2 linked regions of the Homo sapiens genome follow. The protein of the gene in region 1 interacts with the protein of each later gene in a pairwise test. Each region holds a gene or a part of one and is shown on either strand. Other genes may lie near its edges.

Region 1 (8,260 bases):
CTGAGCCCCAGGATGATGGTTGGGGTCCAGTTACCCATAGTGAGCCCACTCATTTCTTAGAATTTTAGGTCTCAACTGCTGAAATGCCCATGACCATGTTTAACATCCAACAAGACATCAACATCATGCTGATATTGGACTTTTATTTGTTTAAAGAAACTAATTCAAATCACATTTGAATAATATTAAAGTGAACGGTATTTGAAATATGTCTGGAGATGGTTGTTTGCTTGGGTATTCTGCCTCACTGCCCTGCCTAAACTTCCGTTATTGGCAAGGACCTGCCAACAGCTCCTTCCTCCTCTGTGGGTGGGTATAGAGAAAGGCACAGATTCTATCCGAATAATCCTGTCTTGACAGAAATAAATAAATCATCACTCTTTACTGACATATTCCCAAACATTAATAGTAGGGAGAGTAATTTACTCCACTTCAGCATCAATGTGGGTGGAGGCAGCATGACTCAGAGGTGAAGTCTAAGGACTCTGAAGCTTAAATTCTACTTCTTTCACTTTTTGGTTAAGTGGCCTTTGACTCTCTGTGTATCAATGCTTTCATCTGTATATGTGCACATAAACCGTATCTATCTCATAGTGTATTGTAAGGATTAAACAAAATAATAACTGTAGACTACTTAGAGTAATGCTGAATATGCAGTGATTGCTCCATAAATGGTTACTTATTACTATTATTGATGGGAGATAAGACAGGGAGTTGAAGAAATAGAAATACGAATGGGGCAGAGAAAAGGAAGAATTAAGAGTATGAGACAGTATATGTAGAGGGGGTGGGCAAGGATTAAAACTGGTGGACTCCTTCATCTCCTACCCTCAGAGTGGGAGTGTCTCCCAGGGTATGTGGAGAGACAGTCAGAGTCATGGTGTTTCCAAAGTCATGATCAGAAAGTTGGCATCAGAGCATAAGACTGTGAATTTTGACTCAGAGAAAACTTTTCCAACATGGAACAGTCATAAGTTTGCACACTCAGACTTTCCTTATGTCGGTGATTTCTGAGGGGAAATGGGGATTTCTCCCTGCATCTCTCCACTGCTTCTCAGCCTCTTCAACTGCTCTGAATTCCAGGGAAATGTGTAAAGTGTAGACTCCTAAGCCCAATACTGAATGTAAGGGACTACCTCTACCAGGAACAGCAGCAGGAGGAATTCATGGTATATTTTTGTGCTCAGAAAAGGTTTGCAGAATAATCCTTAAGAGGCAAACAGATAATTCAGTAAAGGTGGACAGTATGTAAAAAGTACTCCTGGCTTCACTTTTATAAAAACAAGCTCCCATTCCCCTTTCATGGATCCTTGATGAAATGAATATCTCACTCCTAGTTTCCTTTTCCAGAACCCAGACAACCAACACCTAAGCTCAAACTCCCACCACCTTTTCTCCTGTTTATGTTCCTTGGACAATTCCCTGACAGAGGAGTCCTGCCCAGGATCTCTGTGTGGTAAAGCCATGGCTCTTCCTAATAATGAATGAAAAGCGAGTGTGAAAAATAGTAGCATTAGCTGATATCTGTTAAACACTTACTATATTCAGGTACCATGGCAAGTGTTGTACATGCATTATCATCATTTTGATTCTCAAAACAATTCTACTGTATTAATACCTCCCCATTTTGAAGCTGAAACAAGAGTCAGAGGAGGAATGTAACTTCGTCTAGGTCACAAAACTTGTAAACAATTCACTACTAGCTGATTTGACAACTTTATTTCAGTTTCAGTAGATGAAAGAAGTGTATCCTAGAGCTACCTTTTATCTTAGCAGGTATTAACCTTTTGAAGAGCATCAAAAATTTGAAAGCAATGAGTGAAGAGGTCAGGTGGAGCAGAAAGAAGAACCAATGGGATTGGGATTAACCTTGGAATTAGAAAAACCAATGTCTATTTCCAGCTCTACCAATTTAGGTAGTGAAATTTCAGGTGAATTTTTAAACCCCTAAATCTTAATTTATTATTTTTCTTGCATAATGGGATTAATAACGTCTATCTTGCTCATCTCAATGGTTTTCATATGGATGACATAAGAATGTAGGCATAAACATTGTAGAATGTTTTGCAAATTAAGTGGTATCAAATGCTACCTTGTCTGGTCTCTCTCTGGAAGATTAGGGACATCCCTAGTACCATTCCTCATCTACTTGCATTTTCTGTCTGCCATTCTAGAGCGACCAGCAGAGGCTCCAAAAATTTGGTCTGACTAGTGGTTACAATCTCCATGAAGTTCAAATTAAAGGAGCCATAGCTTGAAATGGCCAAAGAAACCAGAGAGATCACAGTGCATTGATTCTACCTTTACAGAAAATCCAAACGTACTAGGTTCCCAGGGTTCTAACTCATGCCAGAATTCTGCTAGTGCATTTTCAGAACTGGCAAGAGATACTAGAAGTAGATCTAGAAGTTCCAAACATAGTAAATTTCTGTTAGAGCAATTGTTTGTATTTAAGGAGATAACATGTACAATGACACAGCACTCCCAGATCTATGTTAATGTTACAATTTTCTTTGTACAAATAACAATCAATATTCATGTCGTTCTTTTAGTTTACTGTTATGCCATAAGTAAGAAAAATAGGGTTTTTAATTCAAGTTCTCCAACTCTTTTTTGAGACTATTTGTAAAAAATGGGATAGTAATCTCTTCCTCATTTATTTTAGAGTTTGTTGAGGATAAAAGCAGAGTAATAGCTCTGTGTTTTGAAAATAAAGGGAGTTTATAGAGATGAGGCTCAACAATGATAACGATGAGTCATCCATCACTCTAACCTGATAGAACAATCAACTATAATTAGGAAAGACATTTTTCTCTCTCAAACGCCATCACAATTGAATGCCAAGAAGAAATTGCTTGTAAGTCATTCAAGCTTTTAGAAGATCTTTCTTTTGCCAGGCTTTTTGGGTGGGTTTACCAAGTGCTGATTCCTCTGAGAAGGATTTGCCTCAGACCTTTGGAAACTGAGATCTCCAGATCTCAGAAATATAACTCAGTAATATAAACTTTAAAGCTGAACCTAAACACTTAGGTTTGAATTTTAAGTCTCTCCCCAGCCAGTTGGATCCTGTTGAGTACAGTAGATACTGAGACCCAGGGTGTTCTGCTAAACACAGATCAAAAAGACAGTTCAATGTCTTCCTTAAGGGCAATTTTTAAAACTTTATGGAAAACTAGGAGGCGATCAGCAAGGGTCAGAACTCACAGGTTTGCAGGCAAAGGAGCAAGATCCATAGGTGGTGCTGAGCCATCTCTTTCAGGGTCTAACCTTCTGTGGAAAAGCACGGCACTGTTCTAGCAGAGTCAGTTTCACTTGAGTTTTCTTCCTCCTTTTTATAACGACATTTAAGAAAGGAAGTGCATGTTAACTGATTTAGTTAACATTGGTCTTTGTATTACTGTGCTAGTTTTTTCCAATTTAAAGTGCCTAGCATTAATTATTTATTCAACACATATTTATTGTGTGCCTACTATGTGCCAGGCCCTCTTCTGGGTGCTGGCAATATACAGAGCAACAAAACAATTGATCACCCTCCTTTCATGGCATTTATACTCTTTTTTGGAGTAATCAACAACTCTATAAGCAGTTCCAATTTAATGTAGTAAGCATTGCAATAGGAAAAATACAGGGAACTATGAGAGGAATAGGGGCATCTAACTCAGGCTAAGAAAAGTTGGAGTAGGCTTCCTAAAGAAACTGACAACCAACCTGAGACAGGCTCAAAGAATGAATTACCATTATTAGGCGAATGGCGGTGGGGGATATGAAAGAGGAAAAATGTTTTGACATATGGTAGGAGCTTAAAAAAACATAGCAATTAAAATTACATAATTATAGTTATATAAAATGATCACAAGTACATGATTATGTATTATAATGTATAATCAACATGTGATATTATTTAACATAATCAATATTAAGTATTATATTAATAATATATAATTATATTTATATATGATACAATAATATATAATTATATAATATATTAATATATAATATAGTATAACTACATACATATAATTATGTATAATTCCATGATATCATCATGAAACATTATGATTATGATCACACCTTATTAGGGACACAAAAAGTGTTTGATAAAAATGAAGTCAAAAGGGATTTTTAGACTATTGAATCTATTTTGCAGATGGAGAAACTGGCTCAGAAGGAGAGGAAGTGACTTTTCCCTATATCACACAGTGAATTAGGGAACTGAGTTAAAAGCCAGCAGTGTCACTTGGCAAAGACTGTGACTCCTGGGCATGAGAGACAGCAGGTGCAGAGGCAGGCTTAGGTGGAGTTGAGCTAGATGTAACAGGACTATTTCTTGTAGAGGGTCTTCATCTTGGTTAACAAGAATAAGAGTGATTGTGTAATGTGTGTATGGGAGATGTTGTCTGGGAATGGGGATAGAAATGAATATTTAAGTTTGACTCAGCTGTTTTGGGGAGTAATGAGAAGGCTGGGGACACTACCCCTGAGACCTGGAGGAGCTTTTTTTTAACTGAGACGAGTCCTCATGCTAGCTAGCTCATTCCTAGGTAACCTGGCCTCTAGAGTCACACATTAAATAATCCTGCTGATCATTTCCCATATATACTTACATAATACTGAATATAGTTGACCCTTGAACAATGCAGGGGTTTGGAGTGCTGTCCCCTCAACCAGTCGAAAATCCATGCATAACTTTTGACACCCCTAAACTCAACTACTAATAGCCTACTGTTGACAGGAAGCCTTACCAACAACACAGTTGATTAACACATATTCTATGTGTCATATACATTGTTTACCATATTCTTGCAGGAAAGTAAGCTAGAGAAAATAAAATGGTATTAAGAAAATCATGATGAAGACAAAATATATTTACTGTTCATTAAGTGGAATTAGATCATCATAAAGGTCTTTATCCTCATCATCTTCATGTTAAGTAGGCTAAGGAGGAGGAGGATAAGGAGGAGTTGGTCTTGCTGTCTCAGGGGTCCCTGGGGAAGAAGAGATAGAGGAGGTTGAAGGGAAGGTGGAAGAGACAGGCACAGTCGGTGTAACTTTTCAGAAGTATATTTAATTTTTGTCTGACTTTTTTGCTTGTTCATTTCTCTAAAAATATTTCTATATGGTACCCCTTCTTACTTCTACCATTTGTTTTAGTTTTAGTGCCTGTATCATACCATAGATGGGCCCATATCATAAAAGAAGTCAAAAGCGGTCCCGAATAGTCAGAAGCCTTCTGTCAGACTGTCTAATGTCAGCTTGTTTTCTGGCACTGCTGCTTCTATGTTTTCTTCCGCATTGTTTGATCCTGGCTTAGATGCATTCTTCTCCATCAAGTCATCTTCCATTAATTCCTCTGGTGTGGTGTCTATTAGCTCTTGAATTTTGCCAAGATTTATTTCTTGAAACCTTTTACCCCAACTTTTTTTTTTGCCATATCCACAATATCTTTCATAATTTCCTTGATTAGCTCTGTCATAAATCCTGTGAAGTCACGCACAACATTTGGACACAGTTTCCTCAAGCAGAGTTTATTGTCTCAGGCTTAATGGCTTTCACCACTTTTTCTGCAACAATGATAGCATCTTTAATGGTGTAATCTTTCTAGACTTTCATGATGGCCCTCTCCTGGGGTTGTCTTCCTAGGCATTGACAATTCTTTCCATAGAGTACGTATATAATGAGCCTTAAAGGTCCTTATGACCCCCTGTTCTAGAGGCTGAATTAGAAACATGTCTGGGGAGAAGTATACCATTTCAGTGCCTTTGCTGTTGAACTCCTGGGGCTCTGGGTGGCCAGGGGCACTGTCCAATATCAAAATAACTTTAAAACGCAGTCCCTTACTGGCAAGGTATTTCCTGACTTCAATGACAGGGTATTGATGAAACCAATGCAGGAAAAATGTTCTTGTTGTTCAGGCCTTCTTGTGGTACAATTAAAACACTGGCTGCTGGTGTTTATCTTTTCCCTTCAAGGCTCAAGGGTTAGCAGACTTATAGATAAGGGCAGTTGTGATCATAAACTCAACTGCATTTGCACAAAACAGTAGAGTTATTGATTTCTCTCAGTTCCTGTATATTTTTGTTTATGGTGATATGTAATTTACTGGAGAGATGAATTTCTTATGTGGAAATGGTATTACAAGATTTTTTTTAATACTGTGTATTTTATTTTACGTTTATGTAACTTAATTTTTTTATTATTCTACTTTAAGTTCTGGATTACATGTGCAGAACGTGCAGTTTTGTTACATAGGTATACACGTGCCATGGTTGTTTGCTGCACCCATCCACCCGTCACCTACATTAGGTATTTCTCCTAATGCTATCCTTCCTCTAGCCCCCCCCATCCCCCACAGGCCCCAGTGTGTGATGTTCTCCTCCCTGTGTCCATGTGTTCTCATTGTTCAACTCCCACTTATCAGTGAGAACATGAGTTGTTTGGTTTTCTGATCTTGTGATAGTTTGCTGAGAATGATGGTTTCCAGCTTCATCCATGTCCCCGCAAAGGACATGAACTCATCCTTTTTTATGTCTGCATAGTATTCCATGGTGTATATGTGCCACATTTTCTTAATCCAGTCTATCATTGATGGACATTTGTCCAAGTCTTTGCTATTGTGAATAGTGCTGCAAATAAATAAATAAATAAATATGTGTGCATGTGTCTTTATCGTAGATTGATTTATAATCCTTTGGATATATGCCCAGTAATGGGATTGCTGGGTCGAATGGTATTTCTAGTTCTAGATCCTTTAGGAATTGCCACACTGTCTTCCACAATGGTTGAACTAATTTACACTCCCACCAACAGTGTAAAAGTGTTCCTATTTTTCCACAACCTCTCCAGCATCTGTTGTTTCCTGACATTTTAATGATTGCCATTCTAACTGGCATGAGATGGTCTCATTGTGGTTTTCATTTGCATTTCTCTAATGACCAGTGATGATAAGCATTTTTTCATACATCTCTTGGCTGCGTAAATGTCTTCTTTTGAAAAGTGTCTGTTCATATCCTTTGCCCATTTTTTGATGGGGTTGTTGCCTTTTTTCTTGTAAATTTCTTTCAGTTCTTTGTAGCTTCTGGATATTAGCCCTTTGTCAGATGGACAGATTGCAAAAATCTTCTCCCATTCTGTAGGTTGCCTGTTCACTCTGATGATGATGATAGTTTCTTTCGCTGTGCAGAAGCTCTTTAGTTTAATTAGATCCCATTTGTCAATTTTAACTTTTTTTGCCATTGTTTTTGGTGTTTTAGACATGAAGCCTTTTCCCATGCCTATGTCCTGAATGGTATTGTCTAGGTTTTCTTCTAGGATTTTTATGGTCCTAGGTCTTATGTTTAAGTCTTTGATCAATCTTCAGTTGATTTTTGTATAATGTGTAAGGAAGGGGTCCAGTTTCAGTTTTCTGCATATGGCCAGCCAGCTTTCCCAACACCATTTATTAAATAGGGAATCCTTTCCCCATTTCTTGTGTGTGTCAGGTTTGTCAAAGATCAGATGGCAGTAAATGTGTGGTGTTATTTCTGAGGCCTCTGTTCTGTTCCATTGGTCTATATATCTGTTTTGATACCAGTGCCATGCTGTTTTGGTTACTGTAGACTTGTAGTATAGTTTGAAGTCAGGTAGCATGATGCCTCCAGCTTTGTTCTTCTTGCCCAGGATTTTCTTGACTATGTGGGCTTTTTTTTGGTTCCATATGAAGTTTAAAATAGTTTTTTCCAATTCTGTGAAGAAAGTCAGTGGTAGCTGGATGGGGAGAGCATTGAATCTATAAATTACTTTGGGCAGTAAGGCCATTTTCATGATACTGATTCTTCCTATCCATGAGCATGCAAGGTTTTTCCATTTGTTTGTGTCCTCTTTTATTTCCTTGAGCAGTGGTTTTTGAAGAGGTCCTTCATATCCCTTGTAAGTTGTATTCCTAGGTATTTTATTCTCTTTGTAGCAATTGTGAATGAGAGTTCACTCATGATTTGGCTCTCTGTTGTCTGTTATTGGTGTATAGGAATGCTTGTCATTTTCGCACATTGATTTTGTATCCTGAGACTTTGCTGAAGTTGCTTATCAGCTTAAGGAGGTTTTGGGCTGAGACAATGAGGTTTCCTAAATATACAATCATGTCATCTGCAAACAGAGACAATTTGACTTCCTCTCTTCCTATCTGAATACCCTGTATTTCTTTCTCTTGCCTGATTGCCCTGGCCAGAACTTCCAATACTATGTTGAATAGGAGTGGTAAGAGAGGGCATCCTTGCCTTGTGCT
Region 2 (7,915 bases), 1.8 Mb from region 1:
ACACAGTGTGAGAAAGGAGATGTTGCTACAGTCACAAGAAAGCATTAAAATAATGCAAGAATATTACAAACTATCTGCCAATAATTGTGAAAACAGACAAAATTGACACATTTCTAGAAAAACAAAAAAAGACAAAATTGGCAAAATATTTTAACAAATCAAAAAGTATTAATATTTAAATAGTAATTGAAGATGCCCCCCCACTCCACCCCACCCCACCCCACCAGAGTCTCAAACTCAGTTTTATAAGAAAGTACTGTACTAAAAAATGTCAAGGAACAGATAAGTTTATTTTTATTTATTTATTTACTATATATATATTTTTTGAGATAGGGTCTCACTCTGTCACCCAGGCTGGAGTGCCCTGACATGATCTTGGCTCACTGCAACCTCCACCTCCCGGGTTCAAGCGATTCTCCCACCTCATCCTCCTAAGTAGCTGGGATTATAGGCGTGTGCCACCACACCTGGCTACATTTTTGTATTTTTGTAGAGACAGGGTTTCACCATGTTGGCCAGGCTGATCTTGAGCTCCTGACCTCAAGTGATCCCCCCACCTCGGCCTCCCAAAGTGCTGGGATTACAGGTGTGAGCCACCACACCCAGCCCAGAACAAATAATCTTTACCTGAAGAGTTGTTGCAGAAAATGGTAAAAGGAAAAAGACTTTTCTTCGCTTTATATGAACAGTGTAACCATGATTCAGTAAATTATAGTCCTATTTGGTTTATGAGTTTTAATGCAAAAATCTTAAATGAAATATTAACTTACCAAATTCCACAGTTTATGAAAAATAATAAAATATTATCAAGTGAAGCAATGCAAGGATGAAATGATATCAACAATTTTATTAAGGTAACTTACCTTTATAATGGAGTGAAGACAAAAGGAATGTGACTATCTCAATAGATTAGAGATAGAAAAAAATCACAATAAATGTCAAAATATTTCTAGTAAAAATTATAAAATAGCCTTTAACAAGGCTACAACAAACATAATGTTTAAATAAAGAAAATTTCTAAGCATTCCCTGTAATACTGGGAACAGTGTAAGAATACTCACTATCATGACTATGAACTGTTTAATGTATACAGGAGGCCCTAACCAATGGGTAAACATAAAAAATAAATGAGCATAGGTATTGCAAGGAAAGAGAAAATAAAATGTTATTATTTATAGCTGACAAAATCATTTACATAGAAAACACAATAGAATCAACAGGTAAACTAGTAGATCTAATGAGAGGGTTAACATTTCACCAACACCATATCCTATTAGAAATGTAATAAAACATAAGATATCATTTACAGCAACTAGAAATAGGAATTAATCTAACAGAATATACAAGACTTCAGTTGGGAAAATTTATGACTCCATGAAAGGGCAAAAAAGATGACCCAAGAACATGGATGTGGCATGTTTATGCATGGGAAAACATCACAAGAACGTCAGTTCTCTCCTATTTACAAATTTGTTGCAAGTTCATTAAAAATTCCAAAAAGAGGTTTTAAGCAATTTCACGTATTTATTATAAAATGTATATAGAAGAATCAAGGTCCATGAATACCTAAGCCAGTTTTGAAAAGTAAAAGAGGACATTTGTCCTACCTACCAGACCCAGGGAATAGTAGCCATAAATTGCTGTGACCCCAAATCTCACAATGCTCCACACTTTGGGGCTCCAGCCACAGTGTCTGTTCATCTGTTCATATTACCTCTAAGTCGAGAGCTCCTCTCTTTTAAAACTCTGAAGATAAGTCCAGTGGGGTGAAATACATTACTACAATTTGATGATAGGTAAGAGAAAGGGCATAGAATTTGGTATATTTCAAACTGACCAGGTCCTAATTCACATTTTGAACTAGCAGAAAAATTCAGCAAATCAATTTCAGTAAACCTTAAAAACCAATTCAACAAACCTCCCTCAGCAATGTGCTTCCAGTCAGTTTCTATGAACTAGGCACAGCTCTGGGCAGCACAAATTTCTACACACTGTGGAAGATACAAGGGAGACCCAACCGTGCTTTGATGGCACTTAGAACCTAGTTGGGAACAGAAATCACACATAGAATATTTTAGAAATCTCCACATACATCACTGTACAGAACCACATTCATGCTGTTGAAATGACTGATGCATAAGTGGAATTAAGCAAAACCAGGGAGAAAGTGTGGCTGGGGCAATGCTCACCAGGAAGTTTAAGATTAGAAAGAACCAGGAGGAGAGTAGCCCAGGCTGGAGGGAGAAGGGTGCACATGGGGGTCCAGCAGGTACAGAGAAGGTGCTGATCTGTATGCATCTCCATCACTCCCGATCCCTCACCTTCACCTGACACAAGCAGGCTCAACAGAGAGACTGGGGCAATGTTTATCATCCCACCCAACCACAGAGACAAAGAAACTAAGACCTGGAGATGGGCAGAAACGTGTTCAAAGTCACACAGCCACAGGACTGGAACTCAGGGCTTCAAACTCACAGACAAGTGTGCCCCTCCTCTGTATAAAGCTGCCCCTCTGACTGCATGGTCCAAAGGAGGGTGTCAACCATGATGTAGGGTGGTACCTTTAACAAGTCAAAGGGAAAATGTTCAGGCTGTCCCATTCCAAGAAAGAAGAGTGAAACTGGAGAGGGTTTTGAAATTGCTCCTGGTATATGTCTGGGAGGCGGGGATGTGGAGAGTGACCTCTGGTGCTGGTGGGCAGAACATCTTCAGTTACACAACCAGGAGAGTCTGAATTGTCCACTAGAGTTTGGTGCTCTGGACCTATGCCTGCAGAAGTGGGTCATCAGTGAGAACTGTTACTCATCTCTTCAACTTGCTTTGTCCGGCAGCCTTATCTTCAAGGCAAGACATCCACATAATCGCTGTTACTGTTCTTTGGAGGGAAAAAAAAAGCAGAAGACCAGCCATGAGACCACACCCAGAAGTCATATCAAACAACCCCACTCAAAGGAAAGAAGACCCCTCCCCAGGCACAGAGCCATGTTGATGCCACCTGAAAGTTGTATCTTTAAAGGCTGGGGTACTACAGGGAGCCCTCCTAACAAAATAGGAGATCTCTTTATAAGCCAAGCCTCAGACCTTCCAGCACAAGTGTCTCCATTCACCAGCAAGAAATCTGCACCTCCCTTGGAGTAAGAACATCTGAAGCTTCTTCTAAGGAAGCAATGGGAATGGGAGGAAGAGGTTGATGGGGAATATTTCCTCTTCAGTAGCTGAGAATTTTGGAGCCTGCTGTGTCAGCACTGACCCGGCATGGAAAACTGATGGAGTGAGATTCATGCCCAGGTCTTGGGGAAGATTTCTGAGGGTTCTCCTCCTGGGATTTATGATTCTTTTCTCATTGTTGAGACAAATGCTACCACCACCCCAACCAGTCCCAGCAACTCATCTGGGTTTGCCTAAGGGCTGCAGCACAGATACATTCCTGGGTTTCTAGATCTGCCACACTGTATACTTTTTATTCTATAAATTTGGGGGGGAAAGTAGCTGTGGGACTACATCTGCAGCTGGACCTATAGAAAGTGATTTTTTTGTGTCCATGAGTACACACTGCCCTTCATGGGGATGGGGGGACAGGGACACAATGGTAGGGAAGGGAGTTGTATTTTATGCTTAGCCTTGCTGGGGAAATGAGAAGCCGGCTATGGCAGCCTAAAGGGTGACTTTGCCGCAGACAGAGTAGAATGGGGATGGAGTGATTGCAGGCTCCCAGAGAACTCTCTGTCCTCTGTCCCTCTCCTAGGGAGGATATCTGATCTCATCCCATCACCTGCCACTGATAACTGCCATCCCTTTCACTGAGAATATAACCACACATTCCAACATGGGAAAACAGGATTAAGACCTAAGTGTTTCTGGAAGTCTGAGCTAAATTCAAACAACATTGCAACTGATAGTAAATTCTTTACTGAGAGCAGATTTCAAGAGTGTGGGTAAGGAAGAGTAGCTGCTCATGATATAATTTGAGAGGCTTAGGCAGGGATTCTCTGCACTCAGATTTACTGACCATCTCTCATTTTCCACTACGGCTTAATGCCTTTAAAAATGTATCTGACATAATTTGACACCCAGCACTTTATAAATGAATGCTTAGCAAATATTGAGCAAAGTGTAACAGTATACGCTTTGGGGAGGGCTTGAAGGGCTAGAGTGATTTTCTCATTTGAAAATCTGCCCATTTGCCCATTTATTCTCAAACTTGAATCGTCTGCACAAGGTCACAGAATGAATTTGAAGTCAGCTGTCTGCCCAGGAACCACTCTTGCTATCCTGGCTGCAAACGCAGCAAGCTCTCTGTCTTGGCCCTCAGGGACTAAAAGACAGCACTTCTCAACAAAATGGAAATTGCTCTTAGTAGGATGAAGCTTTTTAGAGATAATGTCACAGAAAAGAGCATTTGTCTGTATTGAGTTTACAAAGTAAGGCATTGGTGGAAATAGGATTAAGATTGCTTTCTGACCCCCACGTGAGAGATTTTACCACAAATGTTTCCAACTCTAATTTCAATCCTCTCCATCTCAAGCTGGGGCTGGTTCTCTTTATTGGCTTTAAAAGGTGAACCACCATCCCCTGATTTGGTTTTTCAAATTTGGAGATCAGTTCCTTTAGGCTTGGAAAGACCTGTTTTGGAGAACCTTCTGCAGTCTGCAAAAATACAAGAAAGGAAATCACTCATTATCATGCAATTGCGTGTGAAATGTGACACTTCTCAAAGCAGTGGGTTTTCAGGGCTGCCCTTCTATGAGCTGAAAAACTGAAAACAAGTGGCTGGAGCTCACACCACTCCCAGTTCACAGAAACTCTCATTTCTAAGACCAACCTCTGACTTGAGCCACTCTGAGTAAAGAGGATTTGCAATCAAGGGATCCCAGCGCAGTCCATAGTATCAAGTGAACCCCATCCTTGGGAAGTTTACCTGGGGCAGTTCTCGCAGATACACTGTGAAGGGTACCCCTGTAAGGGCTTACGTCTGTACCTACAGGCGGGCTTTGCTATCTTAAGGGACTATCGGAAGTGGACTTCTGATGGGAATGCAAAAATGCAATTAAAAAAAATTCCAACTGTTATTTTAAGTTCAGGGGTACATGTGCAGGATGTACAGGTTTGTTACATAGGTAAACGTGTGCCGTAGTGGTTTGCTGCACAGACCATCCCATCACCCAGGTATCAAGCCCAGCATTCACTAGCTATTCTTCCTGATCCTCTCCCTCCTCCCACCCTGAGCCCTCCAACAGGCCCCTGTGTGTGTTGTTCTCCTCTGTGTGTCCATGTGTTCTTATCATTCAGCTCCCACTTACAAGTGAGAACATGCAGTATTTGGTTTTCTGTTCCTGCATTAGTTTGCTAAACATAATGGCCTCCAGCTCCATCCATGTCCCTGCAAAGGACATGATTTCATTCTTTTTTGACCTAAGCTCCTTTCTGATCCCCATGTGAGAGATTTTACCATAAATGCTTCCAACTCTAATTTCGATCCTCTCCATCTCAAGCTGGGGCTGGTTCTCTTTATTGGCTTTAAAAGGTGAACCACCAGCCTCTGATTTGGTTTTTCAAATTTGGAGAACAGTTAGGCTGCTTAGTATTCCATGGTGTATATGTACCACATTTTATTTATCCAGTCTATCACTGATGGGCATTTAGGTTGATTCCATGTCTTTAAAATATGCATTTTGTATACTTTATGAATTTAAAATACACAATTTGTATACTTGATGAATTCACAATCTCCATGTGGGCAAAACAAAACCAAAAAAGTCCCAATGTAAATAGAAAGTGGGAATGGCAACACAACTCAGTTAAGTTGTAAATAGATGTTTTCTGTTTACCAGCTATACACCACGTACTTTTTTTTTTTTTTTTTTTTTTTGAGACGGAGTCTCACTCTGTGGCCCAGGCTGGAGTGCAGTGGTGTGATCTCAGCTCACTGCAAGTTCCGCCTCCCGGGTTCATGCCATTCTCCTGCCTCAGCCTCCCAAGTAGCCGGGATTACAAGCACCATCACCATACCTGGCTAATTTTTTTTTTTTTTTTTTTTGTATTTTTAGTAGAGATGGGGTTTCACTGTGTTAGCCAGGATGGTCTCGATCTCCTGACCTCATGATCTGCCTGCCTCAGCCTCCCAAAGTACTGGGATTACAGGCGGGAGCCACCATGCCTGGCCCACCAAGCACTATTTTCTAATATAACCTTTTAGAAATAATTTTAAAATGAAAAGAATTTTCTGGCTAGGCTCAGTGGCTCATGCCTGTAATCCCAGCCCTTTGGGAGGCCAAGGTGGGTGGATCACTTGAGGTCAGGAGTTTGAGACCAGCCTGGTCAACATGGCAAAACTCCGTCTCTACTAAAAATACAAAAAATTAGCTGGGCATGGTAGCAGACGCCTGTAATCCCAGCTACTCGGGAGGTTGAGCCAGGAGAATCGCTTGAACCAGGACGCGGAAGTTGCAGTGAGCCGAGATCACGCCACTGCACTCCAGTCTGGGTGACAGCAAGACTCTGTCTTACACACCCACACACACATGAATTTTCTTCCTCTACTTTTGTGTATTTGGTTTTCTTGATCGTCACTGTGGTTTTCATATGGCCACCAAGTCAGACTAGAGAAAGGGGTTGGTGATCAGAAGGTTTTCTGATATGCGCCTGATTAACCTCTGTATTAGAGGTACAGGCTGACATCAAAGTCATCTGCAAGGAGGTTCCTTTAATGCAGTCATTTCAACAAAAGGCATCACTGCAGGCTTCTAAGCTCAAAGCTGCTCCCCAGTGAAACGCCTCTTTGTGTCTGAGTTACAAATGATTTGGATGTCTCCCTCTATTTTGTCCACACAAGAGACAAAACAGGGTACTGAGGAATTATCCAGAATTTCCCAAAGAATAAACAGAAAAAAAAGTCTTAAAATAAGTTGCTTTTTATAAGACATTTTATCTTGAAATTATTTCAGACATAGCAAAGTTGCAAAAATAATTTTTAAAAATTACCATATATTTCACCCACACCCCAATGTTAACATTTTATTATATTTGCTTTTTATTCTCTTTCCAAATATATACACATATATTGTGCATGTATATATACACATATATATAAGCTATTTTCAAAGTTAATTTGCAGACATAATATCCCTTTAAATACTTCAGTATTTCTTCAAAAGTAAGGATATTACATAACCATACTACAATGATTAAAATCAGGAAATTAACCTGGATACAGTACTATTTGTTAATCTTATTCAAAATTTGAATTTATTCAAATTTTGTCAACTGCCTCAATAATGTCCTCTATAGCAAAAGAAAAATAGTATAAGTGAGGTGTTTGGGGATCATTTTATATTCTAGTCTCTTTCAGATATTCAGAGTAAACATTAATATACTGAAGATTCTTAGAAATCTGTAGTCTCCTTAACCTTATATGTAAGTGTTTGAGAAAGATTATTTTAGGATTCTCTGTTAGCAGTTATGTTTATTATACTCTACTTCTTAAGCCAGAGAACTAAATTTAAAAGAAGCAAAATGTTTTTCTGCTTAGCTCTCAGTAAACCAGAAAAATTAAACAAACCCTAAGACTTTCAGCTATCTGATGCTTCCCACTATATTTTCGTACAACTATTGGGCACACTTGACTCCCTAAACACTCTGACCTCTTTCCACCGTCCCTTTCTAGCTCCATCTTGCATCATTGTTGAGTCTTCTAATTCAACGGAGGTTTTGCTTGGAGTCCAGGCTGGTGTGTTTGGCCAGTGGAGGAGCCACAGTGGAATAACAGTGAGGGTTATTCAAAAGTAGAACCCAGCTGGGTGCGGTGGCTCACGCCTGTAATCCCAGCAGTCTGGGAGGCTGAGGCCGGCGGATCACAAGGTCAGGAGATCGAGACCATCCTGTCTAACACGGCGAAAACCCTTCTCTACTGAAAATA

The links. Proteins that work in one complex are often made in the same cells at the same time.
Region 2: the proteins of CD84 (region 1) and SH2D1B interact in binary tests that used the Homo sapiens proteins (3 or more experiments, as listed by UniProt).

What each region holds. Positions count from the first base shown.
Region 1 is NC_000001.11:160,576,188-160,584,447, forward strand, and holds the start of CD84 (SLAM family member 5 isoform 2 precursor), read right to left. Parts: upstream 3,310-8,260; 5' UTR 3,251-3,309; coding exon 3,205-3,250; intron 1-3,204. UniProt on the Homo sapiens protein: Self-ligand receptor of the signaling lymphocytic activation molecule (SLAM) family.
Region 2 is NC_000001.11:162,394,441-162,402,355, forward strand, and holds the end of SH2D1B (SH2 domain-containing protein 1B), read right to left. Parts: intron 4,648-7,915; coding exon 4,483-4,647; intron 2,876-4,482; coding exon 2,840-2,875; 3' UTR 828-2,839; downstream 1-827. UniProt on the Homo sapiens protein: Cytoplasmic adapter regulating receptors of the signaling lymphocytic activation molecule (SLAM) family such as CD84, SLAMF1, LY9 and CD244. In SLAM signaling seems to cooperate with SH2D1A/SAP.